Homo sapiens: one gene and its partners. The protein of the gene in region 2 purifies or fractionates together with the protein of the main gene of each other region. This does not show direct contact. Each region holds a gene or a part of one and is shown on either strand. Other genes may lie near its edges.

Region 1 (3,862 bases), on a different chromosome or scaffold from region 2:
ATTTGCTAGAGGGTACAATTATTGCTTCCAAAATAGTCCTTACATTTTTAGGCTATCTTTGAGAGGCTAAGTCTTGCCTCTCATTCAGTTCACTTTCTTACTCCTGGCTTGAGAATTCTACTGAAGTATGAGACAGCTGGCCAATAAGCCCAACTTGTTTGCCAAAGATGAAATCCATTATGTCCTTCTGCAACAGATGGTGAGCGTAAGTCCCAATAGAGACATACTGAGCTCAATGGCAGTGCTACAACTTGATTTTCCCTTGCCAGGGGAGCTAGAAAAAGGACATGCTCAATTGGATCAATAGTAAAGTTTACTTATAGTGAGCCAAGAATTACTCCTGTAGTGAGAACCCATTTCTATTTTCATTAAACCATGAAGCTGAATGGGATGAATCTAAATATAGAAATTCACATTAGAATCAACCATATCCTCTCTAACCTGAATTTCAACATGTTATTAACCATAGATATCACAAAGGAGGACAAAACAAGCAGAACTAAGTTAAATACAGTTTATTAAAAAAAAAAACCCATTCACAAAATGGAATTTGAGCTGCAGAACAGCTCATGTAAACTGCATGGCAGTGATAACGAAGTACAGTGGCTCAGATAAAGGTCTTCACAAGGACGTTCCTGCAAAAGGCAAAAGAGGTTGTAAAGTATTCATATAAGCAGAGGTGAATGACTACACAGTTATATCCACTGTCACTACTGGGAATACCTGGTTGGCTAATAACTCTTTTTGCAATTGGATGAGATTACGAAGTGTTTTGGTTTAAGGTACAGCTTGTCATTCTTTTACTTTGGGAACGCAGGGCATTCTTTTGCTGAGCACTAATTTGTAAAAACTTACCTTTCTGCCACGAACTTGGACAGATGAGTTTCTGTTTTTAAGAGCTGATAAGACTAGTAGCAGACTCCTCCCTAGAAAAGTAAACAACCTTTAGAACTAGCTCTAAGACCAAGTCCCATCTCAAGCTAAACCCCCCATACCTCCCATTAATAACCCACCCATCCCCCCACCATTTGGGGAAGTCTATTACTTTGAGCCATTATTTTAAGGAAATGGGTCAAAGGAAGATAAATAAAAGGGCAAAAATTTATATTCACAGTACAAATAATGTGCTCACTTCCTTCAACTGGGAGCCATCAATAGGGTGTCAATTTAAAACAATTCATCTCCAGAAAAACCAAGTTCAGCTTAACTGGACTAGTTTTGGCTCAATATATTAAGAAAAATGTTTAACAGAAAACTGGACTTTAAGTAACTATATGGATGTAAGTAAAATCTGTTCTTACCTACCCGCATAGCAATAAAACCTTTCCTCCTGGTTCTGACTGCTAGTCCTAAGAGTCAGGTGTGCCTTACTCTTGTCTGCCTCCTTCCTTGCGATGATCACTGATATTTCACTCCCTCCTAGCTTTCATGGAGCGTGCCGTGGCCTGCCCCTGGCTTATCTGTACTCCACATACCACAAGTGTCTACTCTCAGCTGTAGAGTGTCTGAGCTCGGAGCCATTCGCGCTATACTTGCTAGCAGTTCCTAGTAGCTGAACATCTCTCCTGGATCTTTAAAGGCATTGTCACGAATCCTGAGGTATCTGCAAACTCCCTCAATAGTTAGGGTTCCACCTGCTATTGCAAACTCAGCCAGTATCATGGAACTATCACCCATGCTTTCCCACCCACCACCACCTCCCACCCACCTCCCACCACCCTCCTCCTCCCCAAACTTCCAACACACCCATGGGATGGAATATACAGTCCTATTGATAGACAAATCTCTATGCTACTAGGTACAATAGCACTGAAATTGAGAGAGCACCAAAGGTAAGGCTCAAAAGAATCTATGTACAAATAACACATTATTGGATATTAACTGTTAAAGGTTTAGAAATCATTTTCTATACAATTAACATTTTAGGTAGGTTGTGTGACCCCTTGTGCCATAAAGGGAAACTGCAGTTAACATGAAATTATGTAGAAAAATTTAGTTTCTATTGGTATGGTTTGAATCTCCAAATTAATTAGTATAGTTAACTGATAGAACCTCTGAAGGCCCACCCAACCAGAACCCAGTCAAACTGCAGTTTTCCTTTAATGTAAGCCTATCTTTACGTTCATTAAAATGCTTTCTGATATTAGTTATTTTTAAAAGGCCTCCCAGACACTTCAAATCTGCGGATTTATGGAGCGGCATTAGCCAGCAGCTAGTTTCTATTCCCTGGCAGAGCTTTGAACTTGAATTGTGATAGAAGCATTCAACATTATTATCAGGGGGAGTGGGTAGGGAAAGTCCAAATCTCTGCCAGTCCCAAATCCATACAGTTGTCATTTCATTCAAGAGAATTAAATCGTTTATTGATTACACATGATAATGGATACACAAGCTTCATTCCCATCTATAATTTTATCTGGTACCATTATTCAATTTAGATATATTGCATAGGATGTGCCAACAATCACTTTTATAACCATTCCATGATTTTGCTTGGGTAATCCCTTTTAATGGTGAACTTCAGGTCACAACAGTAACTATCAGTTCAACTACACCAAGGTTTCCGAAGACAATGGCTTCTCCACCCAAGCAGGTTGTATATAAATTCCAAATAGAACCTGGCATCACCCTGAAGGAATTCTAACTTCACACTGTTGGGGAAATTTACCAAGATGGCTTAAGAGTAGACTAACTTTACACAGCACATTAAAAAAAAGACATTTATTCAGCGTCACGATCAGACTGTTACATTTAGCAATCAACAGCATGGGGTGCAAAAAAAAAAATCTACATTAAAACCCTTTGTTGGAATGCTTTACACTTTCCACAGAACAGAAACTAAAATAACCTGTTATACAATTAGTCACAAATACAGTCCTCGAGTTTTTTGCCCATACACATGAGTATTTGTCTAAAACATGTCTTCTTTGTAGCAGCTAGGCCCTGCCACCACTGTGCTTGGCTGAGTTCACAAATCTGTTGTAACCTGTAGCTTCCCTGTCACTTCTCTGGCTCTCCTCTCCTGCTAAGCTTTGTTTCCTGTTGAACAATATGGAATAAAGTTGTTAATCTAAACATATTAAGACTCAAGGCTACAATCCAATATCAAGTTTGTTTCCCACAAATTTTGCTGATCTGAATATTAACTTTATATCCACAATTACTGCAATTATAATGTTAACTATGTTGCACTGCTCAGCTACATTAGGGTTATTGGGTTCATCAGCAATTTAAAAAATTATGTCAACACACAAAAAGGTGCTTACTTACCTAATTAAAATCTTCTGCCACTGCCATAGCTACTGCTGCTGCTGGAACCGCCATAGCCACCTGAAAAGTACAATTTTTCTTTTAAAGTTTCAAAGTGCCAACAGTAATGTTTTCATATTTGGGATAATAAAAGTTAAATTCAAGTGTCTGGCCATTTAAAAATGGCCCTACTACAAGGGAGGTGGTAAAGAGGTCCCATGATTTTTCTAATTTGTGATCAAATTATCACTTTCTGAAGGTTCTAAACTATAAACGTTTTGCTGCCCAGACATAGCAGTTAAAGGGCTTTCTTCCCAGCAGTAGCTACAGACACTCTTTTGACATTATCCAAAATTACATAGATACCATACCTTGGTTTCGTGGTTTTGCAAAGTATTGGCCTCCACCGCCATAGGGGCCAGAGCTTCTGCCTCCAAAATTTCCTCCCTTCATGGGTCCAAAATTTGAAGACTGATTGTTGTAATTCCCAAAATCATTGTAGCTTCCACCACCTCCAAAATTGCTTCCTATGAATGGGAAAGAGGGCCTTTATCTGTTACCTGAGGATGATGTTAGTTTCCAATTCTGTTTAGCAGTCAGAATAAAATAAGGT
Region 2 (8,273 bases):
GCTGCAGCTAGAATCCCCCTCCCCTCTCCAAACCAAAGTATAAAAGAAAATCTAGCTCCTTCTTCGAGGCCGAGATACTTTCATGCGGTAGCCGTCTCTCGGTCGCCGGCTAATAAAGGACTCCTGAACTCGTCTCCAAGTGTGGCGTTTCTAACTCGCTCAGGTACACCACTTGGAAGCAGCTTGAATACTTGCTATCATCATGTTGGAGCTTCGAACTACCAAAACGTGATATATTTAAGAGTTCATTTAAACTTCTCATGTTAGCTCTCAATCTCTACCTATCGTTCTACCTTAGGAGACTTACATGGAATTTTGCTTCCAAGTGGAATTGATTTTTAGGAATGACCCAAAAATACAGAAGTTCAAAACTTCCATTTGAAAACCATCTGTGAAGGCTGGGCAATGGCTCCAGCCTATAATCCCAGCACTTTCAGAGGCCGAGGTGGGCAGATCTCATGAGGTCAGGAGTTGGAGACCAGCCTGGCCAACATCGTGAAACCCCGTGTCTACTAAACATACAAAAAAAATTAGCCTGGAGTGGTGGTGGGCGCCTGTAACCCCAACTACTTGGGAGGCTGAGGCAGAAGCCCACAAGGTGGAGGTTGCAGGTGAGCTGAGATCACGCCACTGCAATCCAGCCTGAGACAACAGAATATAACTCTGCCTCAAAAAAAAAAACAAACCTATGAGCTTATGAGCTAGAAGAAACCCACATATTCATCACACCTCCCTTGCCTCCGGCACCTTCCCAGCCAAGCATGAAGGCCTCAAAGACATGCAGGCATGCAGTGAGGGCACTGGCGCCTCCCCCTTTGTTTTGTGCAAGTGCTTAATGAGTTACAGGCAGTTCAGATCAGGTCCTGTGCAGCCAAATGACATACAGCCCTTCCACCAGGGCCCCAAAGACGAGTTTACCTTCAGTTGCACTGGAGGGAAGACTGAAGACATCTACGCAACAGCCTCAACTGCCAAGCCAGAGATGTGGCCCTAGGCCCCAGGTGGGCACAGAGCACCAAGACTCAGTCCACATGACACTGAAGCACAGACAAGACAGAGTGCAGTTTTTAAAAGGAGGATTTATTTGACAAGTTTCACTTAGCGCAATATACCTAAAAGGAAATCACAATACAATGAAAGATTTAAATCAAGGCCTCAGAATTTCATACAAACACCAAGACCAAAATCCTAAGTATTGGTATTGCGTCTCAAATTTTTCCCATTAACTTAAAAAAAAAAAAAGCTTAAACTTACGTGCCTTACAGGTTATTAAATGAAACTAGAATTAACAAACATGCCAAAATGTTTCACTTTTAATAGTAGACACAGCTCCTATATTGTTTTACAAAAAAATAAAAGCATGTCTTTCAACATGCATCCAAAACAGTGTTCAATTTAACGTGGCAAAGGGCAACATTTAACATAATTCAACTGCTTTTACCTAAATACGCTTACTGCTTAAGTACATCCTATAACTAACTTGAGAAAAGCTGGAACTTAAGTTTAACAGTTATAGTTTACTCAGCTTCACTGTTACATCCTAGATGAGTATTGTATTCAAAAATACTGGGCCTTAAGTCTTCATAACAATCCTGATTTCCACTTAGAGTAAGCATAAATCACAAGCTTGTATTGCAGAAACTGTTAAACTGAAGTTTTCTTAAAGAAAAAAAAAAAAAAAAAAAAAAGGTTGACCAAGAGTCAGTGATCAGGATCGATCAATTACATTCCCCATCCACCACTCATACTGGACATGCTAGACAACCCTCCCATTCCGTTCACGCCCATAGATGCACGGCTTCCACTACTGTAGTAGCTGCTGTTCACTGCTCCTTGGTTACCTGCAAAGAGATCAATTTGACAAGTTAGGAGTAATATCAGACTACCAGTCAAATAAAATATAGTATTCCAAGAAAAAGTTTAAAAAGTATACGAGTACAAATGGCTGCTGTCCAAGTGGCGAGACGCATGTTTGGGAAAGGGGAATCCCGACTCCAAACAAGCCTCAATTAACCCCTTTTCTCTGCAGTACCAACTTGCCAGACTCTTGTGCTACCATTTTAACGGATTCTTCAGGATCAACATGAAAAATTAAGTTTAAAGGAAAACTAGTGTTTTTCAAAAATTGCAAAATTACTTCGTATTTTTAAAGCTAAACAAGGCATTTTTAAAAAAAATTTAACATAAACATTCACAATGTGTCCCTCGAATGGCATTTGAGAAAAGGGAGCACAGGGGAAGTCTCTTGCTTTTCCTATTCATGGTGGGCAGGAAGTGAGACAACCAAGCTGGACTAAAGGCAACTCACTGTGCCCAAATGGCAGCCTCCATGGAGTTAAGTCAGAGCCATTGACTGCTATAGAAAGCATTATTACAACATATCAGTATTTGCTATTGGGAATTTATATTTTTTGAGAAAATATTTACCTATGCAATGTTTGATTGAAAATCACTGGAGTTTTCCTGTAAAACTTGGTCTGCAAAAGGATTTTGTAGGGTAAGACTATAATACCAAAATCACCATTCTTTAGACCAATTGAAAAAAAATAAATAAAACCAATCCTAGGTTAACTGACTAATAAATACGATCCTGAACCCAACCACCATTCTACTATTTCAAATTCTCCCTCTGTCTAAAACTGACTTAATGCTAACCAAAAGACAAAAAAGTGAACAACTTTATTTAATGTTTTAATACATGGAGGCAGATATTTTCTGGCTCGACAGTATTCCAAAGCTGCAATGACTAGTTCTTAATTCAAAGAACACTTCCCCCTCCCAATGATTGTTTCTGAAAATTAGCTAGTAAAAACAGTTACATTTGGATTGAAAGCATACATTTCATAACCCAATTTCACCGAAAGGAGCCTGCATCTTCCCAACTAAAGGCACCTGCCTGCGACTTACTCTAAGTACAGTAACAGGCTTTACCATAACTTACTCTAAGTACAGTAATGAACAGGCTTTACCATAACTTACTCTAAGTACAGTAACAAACAGGCTTTACCGTATCCACTCATGCTGCTCTGGCCACCGTAGCCGCCTCCGTAACCCCCACTCAGCTGCTGGCTGGCTGGGCCCCCGTAGCTGGACTGGTTTGCTGTTAAGTTAAGAAAACATTAGAACCTTTTTTCTTATGTGATGTGGTACCTGGTGGTACCGGGCTTGTAATTCTATAGCTATCATTTTCCAGTCTTGATCTTACATTACTGTAACCCTCTGCCTCCTTCTGCCTACTGTCTATAACCAGGCCACCCTTCTATCCATCATTTGAGCCAGTCAAATATTGATAAACCAAAGTGCTAACGGTACACACATCAGCAGGACTAAAATCAACATGATTCCGTAAGTAGAGGCATTTTGTGAAGATCTTATGAAACTGCTTGACTGGATTTAGTGGGTTCCCCCTCAGTTTGATACATCAAAGGCATGTCAATACACCTAATTATGCCCACATTTATCTTAATCCTGTTTTGCTATTGATTTAAACTTTATACTTAGAAAATTTAAGTAGTTTCACTCCGTAGTCCCCTCCCCCAAGACTACTTAAACCTAATTTGAATTATCTATCCTAAGGAACTTCATAACTCACAAGGATTTAAGTAAGCCAGATACAAAACTCAAATATCAAGAAACTGCTTTGCCTAAGTTTCTTATGCTAAACTTATTAAATAAATAGATTAACTTAACTTATAATTGACTTATACAGATATAAACGTTTTGGTTTTTAAAAAAACTAACGATATTTACACAAGCCCATGCCTCCCATCATTTGGCTACCATAAGCACCACCGCTTGCTCCTGCTGTAGAATTCAAGAAGAGTTCTACATATCTGTGTTCTGAAATGAGAGAAAAGGCATACAAGGTTAGCTTAAAAAAAAGACACTAAAGTGATATTTACACAAACCCATGCCTCCTAGCATTTGGCTACCGTAAGCACCACCGCTTGCTCCTGCTGTAGAATTCAAGAAGAGTTCTACATATCTGTGTTCTGAAATGAGAAAAAAAAAGTTTGAAAATGTTTGTTGGTGAAACAAAACAGAATAAGCACTTTTATAAAGTTTTTAAACAAGCAGATCTGTGAACTTCAAATACTTTGGCAAAGAAATTCTAGCTACTTCTCTTAGGTGATCTACTTTAACTCCAAAATCTAGCCTTTACATATTCATCTGTATTGTCAATTAAGGATATACACTTCAAGATGTGCATATCACAAATCCGTTATACTAATTTTTAAAACCCAAACCTTCAACACACTGCCCCCGCATCCCCCAAGAATTAATCTATTACTGGAGAGGAAACTTCTCATATATCCTTATTTTTCCATTTCTCTATTGTAAATGTTAGTCACACAATCACCTGTTAAGAGCCCACAAATGCTCAATCACACTTACGCATATTTGCTTTGTCTTTTGACATAGCTGCCACAGCATCTTCATGAGTTGCGAACTCGACATCTGCTTCACCAGTTACTCTGCCATCAGGACCAATTTCAATGTGTACTCTCACAGGGTTGAGCGGTGAAAAAAACTACAACACAAGGCATTTCAAAGAATTCAACCAACTTTCTAACGTTACAAAAAAAACCTAAAATTTCTAACATAGTGCTCACATTTATAGAATAAGGCTGACTTACTGCCATACTGAAATATTGACTTGTGAGTTCATCTCACACTTACATTATAAATGTCATTCTCAGTAGCTCTGTAAGGTAATCCCCGCATGTGTACACAGTGTCCTGTTGTGCTCTGGAAAGTAGAGCCACCATCCCCGTATCTGTGATCAGACATTCCTGAAAAACAGTAATTGAGGTCTAGATGGACAAGAGTGTAAGCATCCTTCAACTGAGAAATTCAATTCTTACCTTACCTCTTCCAAATCTATCTGACCCAAATCCATAGCCATCATTATAGCCATTGTAATCATCATAGCCTCCATAGCCTGAAAGACAAAGTACAATCAATCAAATAAAACACCTAGACAAAGGAACAGACGACTTGCCGAACCTTACGAATCCTCACGTACCTCCACCATAAGCACCACGCCTCATCCTCTCAAAGCCAGCTCCTCTGCCAATGCTGTTATACCCTCTACCAGCCCCAGGTCTGTCATAAGGACCTGGCCGCTGCATGGCCATAAGCTTTCGTGGTGGATCATAATGAGTTCTAACTTCAGCTCTACTGCTCTTAAAGATTTCAATATACCTAAAGCATTGTTCATAAGGAAGGGGTAGGGAGGGGAGAGAAAACATTAGTTCATTTTATACAGGTATTTAGTTATACAAGAAAACAATCTAGTCATAGCCATGAAACTGACTAATATTTAAAGCCAGATTTCTTATATTTGCATAGGCAATGACCAGAAATTCACTCAATAAATAGTAAGACAATGTAAACTTTATAGAAAAAAAAAAAAAACTCACTCCTCTGAGGCAGAGCCCAACCTTAGGGGTAGAGAGGAGTACTGTAAATAAATGTTTTAGGAGGGAAATAATTCCACTCAACTTTCAACATTTCAAGTCTTAAATCCATTGGCAGCATGTATAGCAAGTGGGCTAAAAAGCCAGCCTCCACCAACAGTCCAGCCCACACTACACATTTCCTTTCGCCAATAAATACCCCAGCCTATGCTTTTAGTAAGAATCAGCATAGGTAAGCGCATGCTTCAATGAAAAATAGTCACAAGCAAAGAGAATAAAACCTTTTGTGACAATTTCTTGAAAGCTATGCTTATTAATACTATGCAGAATATTTATATACAGCAAGAAAAAGTTTGTTGCATTTCAACTTTAAAAACAAGATCAGAAAGTATCACATTTTCTTATGGTAATATTAATTTATTCTAGGTGGGTGTTATTACAGCTAAAGCCAGGTTTGCATTAATTTTTTAAAGCCATAGTCTCTCAACTCTATTGATTGGGGTTAATAAGACTCACAAAATTGTCAAGCAGACCAATTAACTAGGGACAAATTTCAAACCTAAAATTTAGTTTGCGTGTAACGTGGGACTGACACAAGTTTGGAAATCATGGCAAAACATCAATTACCTAGGACTACAAAACATTAATTTCTTCTTTTAAGCAGAGAGAATATGGATTTAATTGTTTACCATAAGAAAAGTGACATATCCAACCAACCATCCATCCCCACCTGTGCCCTATTCTTTCCTTGTGTTTCTTTAGAGCCTTTTCAGCTATTTCCTGTGAAGCAAACTGCACGAAGGCCTCCCCCGTACTCCTCCCCTGGAAGTCCACCGGCAATGTTATCCCATTTGGCACGATTTCCAACCCTTCAACCCAAGGACAAATAACCCCAGTAGGGGGGCAATATTAACATCACAAGCCCAGAAATGATTCTTCTTATAGCTTTAAATAAACCAGAATTTTTAACTTTAGGTGAATGGTATGCTTTCAACAAGTACTCTTTAAATATGCATTGCAATAATATGAAGTTCCATTATTATAAAGTATAACTATTCTTAACACACCCATGGTACAGTATATATTAAAAAAAACTTGCTGAACACAGGATGCATTAAGAATTCAACAACTTAAGAACACATATCTATGCAACTTAATGTTGAGAATTATACAATTCAATTAAGTTTTAAGCATTAAATAACAGTTTTACTAAATTCAAAACACCTTTTACCTCATTTTATATTTCAATGCTTTAAGTTATTGGAACTTCAAGTTTTTAAAAAGGTATACATTTACAACATTTCATATAAAAACTGAAACATTAAATTATAATTGACAAACACAACAATCTAAACTTTCAACAAAACTGATCTACACAGCACAATCATGCATGCTTATGCTCTAACAGTAGTTATGATTCACTTCTGGAAATTCCGTCTATGAAAAATCCTTTCCGTGGATACATTCCCAAGCTTACAAAAAGGACTTAAAGCACTTTCCTAGAAGATATGAAATTATGTTCATATTTAACGTTGACAGCATTCAATTCTCACCAATTTAGTGTCAAAACAAAACAGACTTGATTTTAAAAATTCTGACATTAGGACTCGATACATATATCAATTTTTAACATACTACACTAAACCATGAAAGGATTTCCTGCTTCCAGCGTATCACATCATAAATATTAATACTTAAAATATACGATATCTTATCTAACATTGTTAAACATGCAATCTTATCAGCTCTTCAGCATAAAAACATTCAAATACTTTAGGCCCAGGAACAATTTCAAAACACTTATTTCAGATACTGAGACTACAAGCATTCAAACTACTCTCACTACATCTGATTTTCAGTAAGTTTATACCACACAGGTTAAACCAAGTCTTTCATAAACCGACTTTTGCATTAAAGAGAATTAGACCATTAGATGCTTCTGGTCACATGACCCAAATACGTGTCTCTTGCAACACAGACACTTGCCATAATTTACAACAACCTAATTCATCGCACTGATGATCTGCTGGTAAAGGGATCTTACCTTTAACTTGAGGTACTTAGCTGGACACCAATGTGAGGAAAGTAGTTAAGCTGTTGAGGGCAATCCTCAATGAAAGATCTACTCTGAACTATAATACTAAATATAGGCAAAGTTAACATTTTGGAAGTACTTCATTTCCACCTTTAAGATGGGCTTAAATTATTTGAAGGTCTCTAGGAAGAAAACATTAATTCATTGGCAATTTACAACCTACTGAAATACCTAAGCTACTCAACTTTAACGTCTATTAAATCACCTTGCCATAAGCTAGCCAAAACTCACTGCTCAGCAACAAACATGACTACATACCTGAGAAGAACTGAACAATTTCTTCCTTGCTACATCCAAAGGGAAGTCCTCTAAGCCGTACAAAGCCATCATTGGCCGTGTCAGGACTATTTGGACCAGTATGCTTCAACACCCAATCCATTTCAACGTTGTTTGACTTGAATACTGAAAGAGGTGCTTAGAATTAGTCACTTTTGGAAAATTAGATAACAAAGTTCAGACTTCCTGGGTCTTTAGATAAGCTAGGAAGAGCTGCCACAAACTCCCTTAGATGACCATTTCCATGCAGTCAAATACCTAAAATTCAGAAGGGGTGAGACCTCTATTGTTTAATGCTTTATTTACTGTAACTAGGGCAATGTAAATCAAACCTTCAACATATCTGTGTCCCATAGTTTCTCTGTCTTTTTTCAGGGCCAATTTGACTTCATCTTCTGATTCAAGTTCAACAAAAGCCTCGCCACTTGGTCTGCCTTCTCTGGTGTAGATGAAACGAATACCTTGAGCCCCATTTTGAATTT
Region 3 (7,624 bases), on a different chromosome or scaffold from region 2:
ACCATTTCAATTTTTATTTACATTTTCCTCTTTGTATGCAGGAAATTAAATTCTTAAATATGAGGTGACCTGCTGGCAGAGTACCTTTTTCCTCTCCAAAGGAACAGTTTCTAAAGTTTTCTGGGGGGAAAAAAAAAACTTACATCAAATTTAAACCATATGTTAAACTGCATATTAGTTGTGTTACACCAAAAAATTGCCTCAGCTGATCTACACAAGTTTCAAAGTCATTAATGCTTGATATAAATTTACTCAACATTAAATTATCTTAAATTATTAATTAAAAAAAAAACTTTCTAAGGAAAAATAAACAAATGTAGACCGTGATTATCAAAGGATTATTAAAGAATCTTTACCAAAAATTTCAACCCTACAACCTAAAAACGCAAATTTCTATTTTTAAACATCAGAAAATAACTCTTGGTTCATTACTTATGACCCAAAGTTTTTATTTCACTATTCAATATCTGAAAAGTATCATTTATTTTCCCTTAACTGCCCCCTCTGGTGGTGATTCTAAGTATCTCAGCCAAAAAAACACAACTTTTTACAACAAACACTAAGTTTCTCCATATGACTCTCAGTTACGAAAATATTTAAAGATATGCATTAGAAATAACCTTAAAAATTACTCTTATAACCAGGACAAATTAATTTTTATGACCAGCAGCACTCGAAGCTTAAAAAGTTTAATTTTTGGTGGACATGTCTATATTTGATATATGACAATACAGAATATGAATTACTCAGCTTAACCATATGTACAATAAAATACATTCACGTGGCATAATCTCTAAGATAACAATTACTGAAAGCTGAAGCTTACTTGATTGGCCATGTGGCAAGCGACAGGCACAAAACAATTTTCCAAGTCAATAGGAAAAACCTCAGAGCTGAAATCTTTATATGCTGTACTACACAGCTGTATTCTGGGCACTTATGAATGTTAAGGAAACCTGTCTTAAAAGTTAACTAGGTTAAAAAACCTCAAACGAGAGAAAGTGATATCCAGGACCAACTGCTACAAACGCATAATGCAAACTAAAAAGTCACACGTAATTTTCAATCAATTATTTTTTGTTCCTAGCAAGCAGCATTAATTGCTGCTCTCATCCCAGTTCTACGGAGCTCTCCCTCCATTCGCATGCTCCCAACTCCTAAAAAGTAGTGGTAAAACCCAGTTCAGATTTTTTTCCTGTAGTTTTCATGACTCGTAAAAATTAAAGAAAAAATTAACTGAAATGATCAAACTAGCTCCTATGAGACACAAAGCAGTCTTTTGAAATGGTTACTTGTCACGATAGTTATTTTCATTTTTTCAGCTAGTTTTTATTCTTAATTGTCGTCAGCACATAGGTTATCTCTAAACTGAAATTACGGATAATGTACATTTATAACAAGTTTTACAAATCACTAACAAAAAGCAAAAACTCATTACTTACCTCACAATTTATCCAAACTTACCCGATGTCCACTATCGATTTTAAACAATGTTATTTTATAAACGTGCTTAGGGTCAAAGAAAATAACCAGGTAGACCCCCTTCGCTTGAGACCTTATGCTTATCAATGTAATGTTCAACCAAGATTGCAAACAAAATGAGAAAAGTAACAAAGTTCAAATACAGAGCGGCCCAGGCCCAAAACAGTTTTGCACATCAATCCATACGCATTACAGGAAGGAGCCTCTGAAGCCATGTTTTAATCGAAGTATAACTAAGGACAAAATCGTTATTTCACTTTCCTCGTAATCATCTATAAAGGTCCATGGATCTGTCCCGTAAGGGTTAAACTTCTCAGTAACAACATTACTTAAAATGAGTCAGCTCTACAACTTAAACGGAATCCTTAAGAACAGTAAAGGATTCTGACGCGAATATCCCTCCCCCGCCCAGAAAACCACCTTCGTCCCTGCCCCTCGTGGCCGATGGCTTCCAATTTATGTTTATTTTGCCGCGGTTCATCTGTCGTTTTACTGACTGCAGACCCAGATAAAACCGTTACTCAAAGGAAAAAAAAGACAGGAAAAACATAAAATGGTTTCTTTGTCCTACGGCTCGCATTGAACCCGGCCCGACGCCCTGGGTGGTGATATCTTCTCTGAAACCGGGCCCGCAAACCCGGAGCACCCCCCCTCCCCGCTCTTCGGTGTGGCTTCCGAACGCAATGGCGCCATTTCATCGAGGGGAAGGCTGAGCGCCTTTAATGAGGTGCGCAGGACTCTAAAGATCCAAGCTCACAAAACACTCCAAATCCACCTCGAAACGATATGAAAACAGCCCGAGAAGAAAAAAAAATAGTTAACCACTTCTACTTCTTGATAGAGAAAGCACACTAAGAAAATAAAAGAGTTATAAGGAAAACGCTGAGAGGAAGGCGAGCCATGAAAATGGCGGCCGCCAAATCCGGTTCCCGGGAGAGAGGGGGAGGGGAAGCTCCGCAGCCTCGCTCACGAGGACCTGCTGCCCGCCGAAACGCTCGCCGAGGAGACGCCGTGGCCCCCGAAGCAGCGTGCTTTAGAAAGGGAATAAGAATTCCCGCCTCCGCGCCCCACTTTCACCCCAGCGGGGCAGCGTCCGCCATGTGAAAGCTCCCCATCCCCCACCCCCAGTGAAGGGAAATGGCGCCGGGAGGCTGAGGGTGGGGAAGCTGTTTGTACGCTCAGGCCTCCGCTCAAGACCCCGTTCATAAACCTTAAGCCCCACTGCTACTGAATTGGTCCGATTTCCTGCCTCTCTCCCACGGAGGCGGCTGGCCGACTTCCACTGAGGCGCCAACGGCCTCGCCATGCCCTTTTCAATAACTCATTGATTTCAAACCCGTTACCTCCATCGCGGACTCAGTCGCTTCAGCCCGATTTCCCGCAGCCGAGCGAGATGAGAGAGATCTCCGCGGACGAACACGAACCGGACTCGTCCTGGCGCTGTAGTGAGAACTGCCGCTGCTCGAGAAACAACTCTGCGAGGAGCACCTCCGCACGGGACCCGGCGCTGCTGCTACTGCCGCTAGAGCCGCTGCCGCCGCTTTTCTAGAACCTTCCCCCCCACTAACGCGTCTTCCGCTACGTCAGGCCGTCGCGTAAACGCCCTATCCGCCGCCAATGGCGGGAAGGCTCTACGCCCCACCTTACGCCAAATGCGTACTCCTCCCACCCTTGCGGCCAGAGACAGTACCCGACGTTACTTCCGTAAATGCGCTCAATGAATTGCGGAAGGCTAGAGTCCTGCTAGTTACTACCTCTTGGAATAGGGTCCCGCCCCCTGCCTTGGCGCAAGGCAGGTGAGAAACGGTCGCGCAGTTTGAAATTAACGCCGACGGGAGGGGCTTAATCCGCAGCCTGGAGATCCAGCCCCCTCAACCCGGGAGGTGGTCCCTGCAGTTACGCCAATGATAACCCCCGCCAGAAAAATCTTAGTAGCCTTCCCTTTTTGTTTTCCGTGCCCCAACTCGGCGGATTGACTCGGCCCCTTCCGGAAACACCCGAATCAACTTCTAGTCAAATTATTGTTCACGCCGCAATGACCCACCCCTGGCCCGCGTCTGTGGAACTGACCCCTGGTGTACAGGAGAGTTCGCTGCTGAAAGTGGTCCCAAAGGGGTACTAGTTTTTAAGCTCCCAACTCCCCCTCCCCCAGCGTCTGGAGGATTCCACACCCTCGCACCGCAGGGGCGAGGAAGTGGGCGGAGTCCGGTTTTGGCGCCAGCCGCTGAGGCTGCCAAGCAGAAAAGCCACCGCTGAGGAGACTCCGGTCACTGTCCTCGCCCCGCCTCCCCCTTCCCTCCCCTTGGGGACCACCGGGCGCCACGCCGCGAACGGTAAGTGCCGCGGTCGTCGGCGCCTCCGCCCTCCCCCTAGGGCCCCAATTCCCAGCGGGCGCGGCGCGCGGCCCCTCCCCCCGCCGGGCGCGCGCCCGCTGCCCCGCCCTTCGTGGCCGCCCGGCGTGGGCGGTGCCACCCCTCCCCCCGGCGGCCCCGCGCGCAGCTCCCGGCTCCCTCCCCCTTCGGATGTGGCTTGAGCTGTAGGCGCGGAGGGCCGGAGACGCTGCAGACCCGCGACCCGGAGCAGCTCGGAGGCGGTGAAGTCGGTGGCTTTCCTTCTCTCTAGCTCTCGCTCGCTGGTGGTGCTTCAGATGCCACACGCGTCCCGGGGGCCCGGTTCTCCGCTCCCCTCCCCTCCCCTTCTCGCCGGACCCCGCGCCGGGAGCTGCGGGAAGGAGTGGAGGGTCGGGCGGTGGCCTCGCGGCTGGCCTGGCGCGCGGCCAGCGCCGGTAGTTAGTGGGGGGACTGCTCTGCCCTCGAGGGGGTAGGGAGCTGTGGCGACGGTTGCCCCATTTCGAGACAAAGCGCATTTCCCCCTCCCCTCCCCCACCCGCGTTCCGGCGGAGGCGCCCCCTCCCCCAGCCGCCACGCGGGGCTGGGTCGAGACTTGGGCCTCCCGGAGGGCGGCGCGTGGTCCCGCGTCCGCGAGGCCTGGCGGCGCGCGGCCGGCTGTCCCGAGGCTGCGGCGACCGCCCAGTTAACGTGGCCGCCGCGGGGGTAGGCGCGTGCGGTGTGGCGCAGTGCCCTTGAGCCCCCGTGCCGCGGCCTTTGTTTCTCCCCGCGGATGCGCTGACCACGAGGCCCGCGCTCCCGGGTGGGGGCGGGCACCCGCGCTTAGGCCTCTGGACGCCGGGCTTCAGCGGCGGGGGTCGGGAGCGGGTGTTTGCAAGAGGTGATTCTTTTTTCAAAGTGTCACGAAACGGGGTTGAAGCATCTTAAGTTTTTTCCTTTTGTTATTTAATTACCGATTGGAAAGAGGGAGGGTTTCTGAGCAGAAACCAAGTTGGGATTGCAGAACAGAGAAGATTCACAGTGCTTTACCGTTGTGAGTTGTTTGGGTAATCGTGCCTGGTTTTAAACCGAAAGGATTGTCCTTTAAAAATGGAACATGGACTTTATTATAAATGGGACTTAGATTGGAAAAGACATTGGTCCCCTATTTTAAGCCATGTGAAGCTGTTTTAGGTACCAGGATCCCCAGTAAAGTCTTTCTAGACTCACATGGTTAGGACACGTACTTAAGTACATCATAAGCAATGTAGGTAGGAGCGCAGATCTACTCTGGATTTGTATTCACGTTTGAAATGTGCGCTCTCTACTTGGGGGTTGGAATCCAAACAGAATTTGTATTTAGTTACCTTTTTTGTGTCATGCAAACTTACCTTAACTGTCATGCATTTTTCTAGTAATAGCTCTTCAAGTCTGCAATAAAAAATGGCCTCCAACAAAACTACATTGGTAAGTTAATGAAAACCTAAAATATGTAAGGATTTAACTCAAGTTTTTTTTCCCCACAGTATAACTTTGCATCTCTGTGGCTGAGAAATTTACATCCACATATTTCCCAGCTCTCCCAGTGTAAATTACAGGGGAAAATTAAGAGAAAAACGAATTCATTACAGGGAGATACTGGCTTGGCTTAATAGTGTCTTAACTAGTTCAAAGAAGGCTAATCTTTGAAGGACAGTGCAATGTGGATTTTGCTGAGGATTTTTATCTTCAAATAGAAATACACACATTTTTGCAGCGTTGAAAAATGTTACATAAAATGGTAAAGCCCTTGTTGGTTGGCATAATTTTTCTTAAATCCCCAGAATTCTGGAGAAGTATTTTCATTAAAGCCCAATTTAAAGAACAAGGTACCTTGTGCACCTAGGTTGGAGCAAAAGTCATTGAATCTTTCAAATTACTTTGGTCACTTTATCTTGTTTTAACTTACTCTAAAACATAGAAGAATATTAAGTTTAATTCATTGCAGTGTTTTGTTTTTTAAACAAAATGATCGAAATCGCAAATATGAGCCAGAAGGGAGAAAAGGCTAGATTTTTTTTTTATCTTATTCAGCCATGTCATGTTACAAGTTTTTTTAAACCCTGGAATATTCACATAAAAATCATGAAATTCAAAGTTACAGTTTTCACAATATTTAACATTGCATTAATCTTAAACACGTAAAGGTGAATGTTAATGTCTCCTAGGTAAAATAAAGCATTTGTTTTTGGCTTGTATGTGCTCTCTCTGGGTTTCACACTAAAAAGGGCACGTTAGTGATTTTTAATTTGTGCCATCATTAGATTCTGCATTAAGTCTGTTTACCCTGCATTAGATTCTGCATTAGATTCTGTTTACCCTGGAAAACAGAAGTTGTTTTTGCACGCAATTGATAGCCTTTGGGGTCTGTTATTGTATTTAGTTTATTTTGTGAAGGATCACAGGTTGGCCACTTTAAAAGTTCTTAACTTTCCATTTTAAAAATTCATTAGTGTTGTGAGATATGTGTGCTGTTAATTTCACTTAAATAATGGGAAATTTATTTTGACTCATCCACTTTTGGAAAAAAGTGCTGGGTTAAGGCAAATATATACTATAAAAGAAAATAGTGAGCATTTGAAACTAGCTTATGAATGCCATAGTAGTGAATGAATACTGTATGGCATTTTGTCTGCCTTTTTTTTTTTGTAAACCTTAGTGTGTATCCTTTTCATTTTCTGTATTTATTGTTGACTTTATTTTGTTAGCCTTCTCCCTTTGTGGCAGTAGCTGTTTTGTTTTTCATGTAGTATAGGTATCTGATACACTTCTGTCTATTACAGTTTGTCTTTGCTCCTCCCACCATTATTCCTACCTTCTTGTACTGTACAGTGGCAGAAAGCTGTTTGGGCCCAGTACTCAAGTATCTTGACTAATGAGAATCATAACACCTGACTTAGAAATGGTATCCAAAAACGTCAGGTGTTTGCTGCATGTTTTTGTATTTCAGGGGATTTTTATTTTGTGTGTGTGTATGTGTTACCTATATGCTTGCATAGCTTGAAATGCCCTTTTGCAGTCTTGAGGCCTTTCTTACATATCTGTCTGCACACTTCATATGCCTGCATAGCTTGAAATGTCCTTCTGTAGCCTTGAGGTGTTCTTAACTTTTTTCTGCTTGCTGCTTTACTTGTGGGATGGCTTTAATGATTGAGCAATTAAGGTTTATCTTTTTTAAATAGTATTTGGGTTTTTTGTTTTTGTGTTTTTTTGAGACAGAGTTTTTCTCTTGTTGTCCAGGCTAGAGTGCAATGGCGTGATCTTGGCTCACCGCAACTTAAGCCTCCTGGGTTCAAGCAGTTCTCCTGCCTCAGCCTCCCAAGTAGCTGGGATTACAGGCATGCACCACTATGCCTGGCTAATTTTGTATTTTTAGTAGAAACGGGGTTTCTCCATGTTGGTCAGGCTGGTCTCAAACTCCTGACCTCAGATGATCTGCCCACCTCGGCCTCCCAAAGTGCTGGGATTACAGGCATGAGCCACTGCCCCCGGCAATAGCATTTGCTTTAAGATGAAATGTTAAGATGGATTCCTTCTCAGCCCATAGGATCTTCTGATTAACCATTTCAGGGTTTTTTTTCCCCCATTTTTAATCCTCTCATAAAAATTTTCCCCATTTTTAGTCCTCTCATAGGAAATCTTGAGCCATTGGAAAGAGCTGGTTCACGTTGGTTTCCTGCTTCTCTTAAATAGTGTCATACCAAAGAAAATGCCTGTTTAAAGTGAATTTGGTTACCAGTATAGACTTTCTCTTGAGAAACCAGGAAGGAAGGATT

Evidence for each region. Proteins that work in one complex are often made in the same cells at the same time.
Region 1: the proteins of HNRNPH1 (region 2) and HNRNPA1 purify together in Homo sapiens (affinity purification with mass spectrometry; 7 studies listed by BioGRID and IntAct, with this or other methods). This does not show direct contact.
Region 3: the proteins of HNRNPH1 (region 2) and HNRNPA2B1 purify together in Homo sapiens (affinity purification with mass spectrometry; 5 studies listed by BioGRID and IntAct, with this or other methods). This does not show direct contact.

Annotation. Positions count from the first base shown.
Region 1 is NC_000012.12:54,283,726-54,287,587, reverse strand, and holds the end of HNRNPA1 (heterogeneous nuclear ribonucleoprotein A1), read right to left. Parts: intron 3,777-3,862; coding exon 3,621-3,776; intron 3,331-3,620; coding exon 3,275-3,330; 3' UTR 3,271-3,274; intron 3,040-3,270; 3' UTR 501-3,039; downstream 1-500. UniProt on the Homo sapiens protein: Involved in the packaging of pre-mRNA into hnRNP particles, transport of poly(A) mRNA from the nucleus to the cytoplasm and modulation of splice site selection.
Region 2 is NC_000005.10:179,613,119-179,621,391, forward strand, and holds the end of HNRNPH1 (heterogeneous nuclear ribonucleoprotein H), read right to left. Parts: coding exon 8,124-8,273; intron 7,918-8,123; coding exon 7,774-7,917; intron 6,290-7,773; coding exon 6,151-6,289; intron 5,206-6,150; coding exon 5,027-5,205; intron 4,943-5,026; coding exon 4,871-4,942; intron 4,815-4,870; coding exon 4,681-4,814; intron 4,532-4,680; coding exon 4,396-4,531; intron 3,993-4,395; coding exon 3,933-3,992; coding exon of another isoform or gene 3,903-3,932; intron 3,841-3,902; coding exon 3,751-3,840; coding exon of another isoform or gene 3,742-3,750; intron 3,101-3,741; coding exon 3,008-3,100; intron 2,478-3,007; coding exon 2,428-2,477; intron 1,842-2,427; coding exon of another isoform or gene 1,723-1,841; 3' UTR 1,060-1,722; downstream 1-1,059. UniProt on the Homo sapiens protein: This protein is a component of the heterogeneous nuclear ribonucleoprotein (hnRNP) complexes which provide the substrate for the processing events that pre-mRNAs undergo before becoming functional, translatable mRNAs in the cytoplasm.
Region 3 is NC_000007.14:26,197,747-26,205,370, forward strand, and holds the start of HNRNPA2B1 (heterogeneous nuclear ribonucleoproteins A2/B1), read right to left. Parts: upstream 3,001-7,624; 5' UTR 2,832-3,000; coding exon 2,826-2,831; intron 121-2,825; coding exon of another isoform or gene 85-120; intron 1-84. Other genes in the region: CBX3 (chromobox protein homolog 3), read left to right, coding at 5,253-5,276. UniProt on the Homo sapiens protein: Heterogeneous nuclear ribonucleoprotein (hnRNP) that associates with nascent pre-mRNAs, packaging them into hnRNP particles.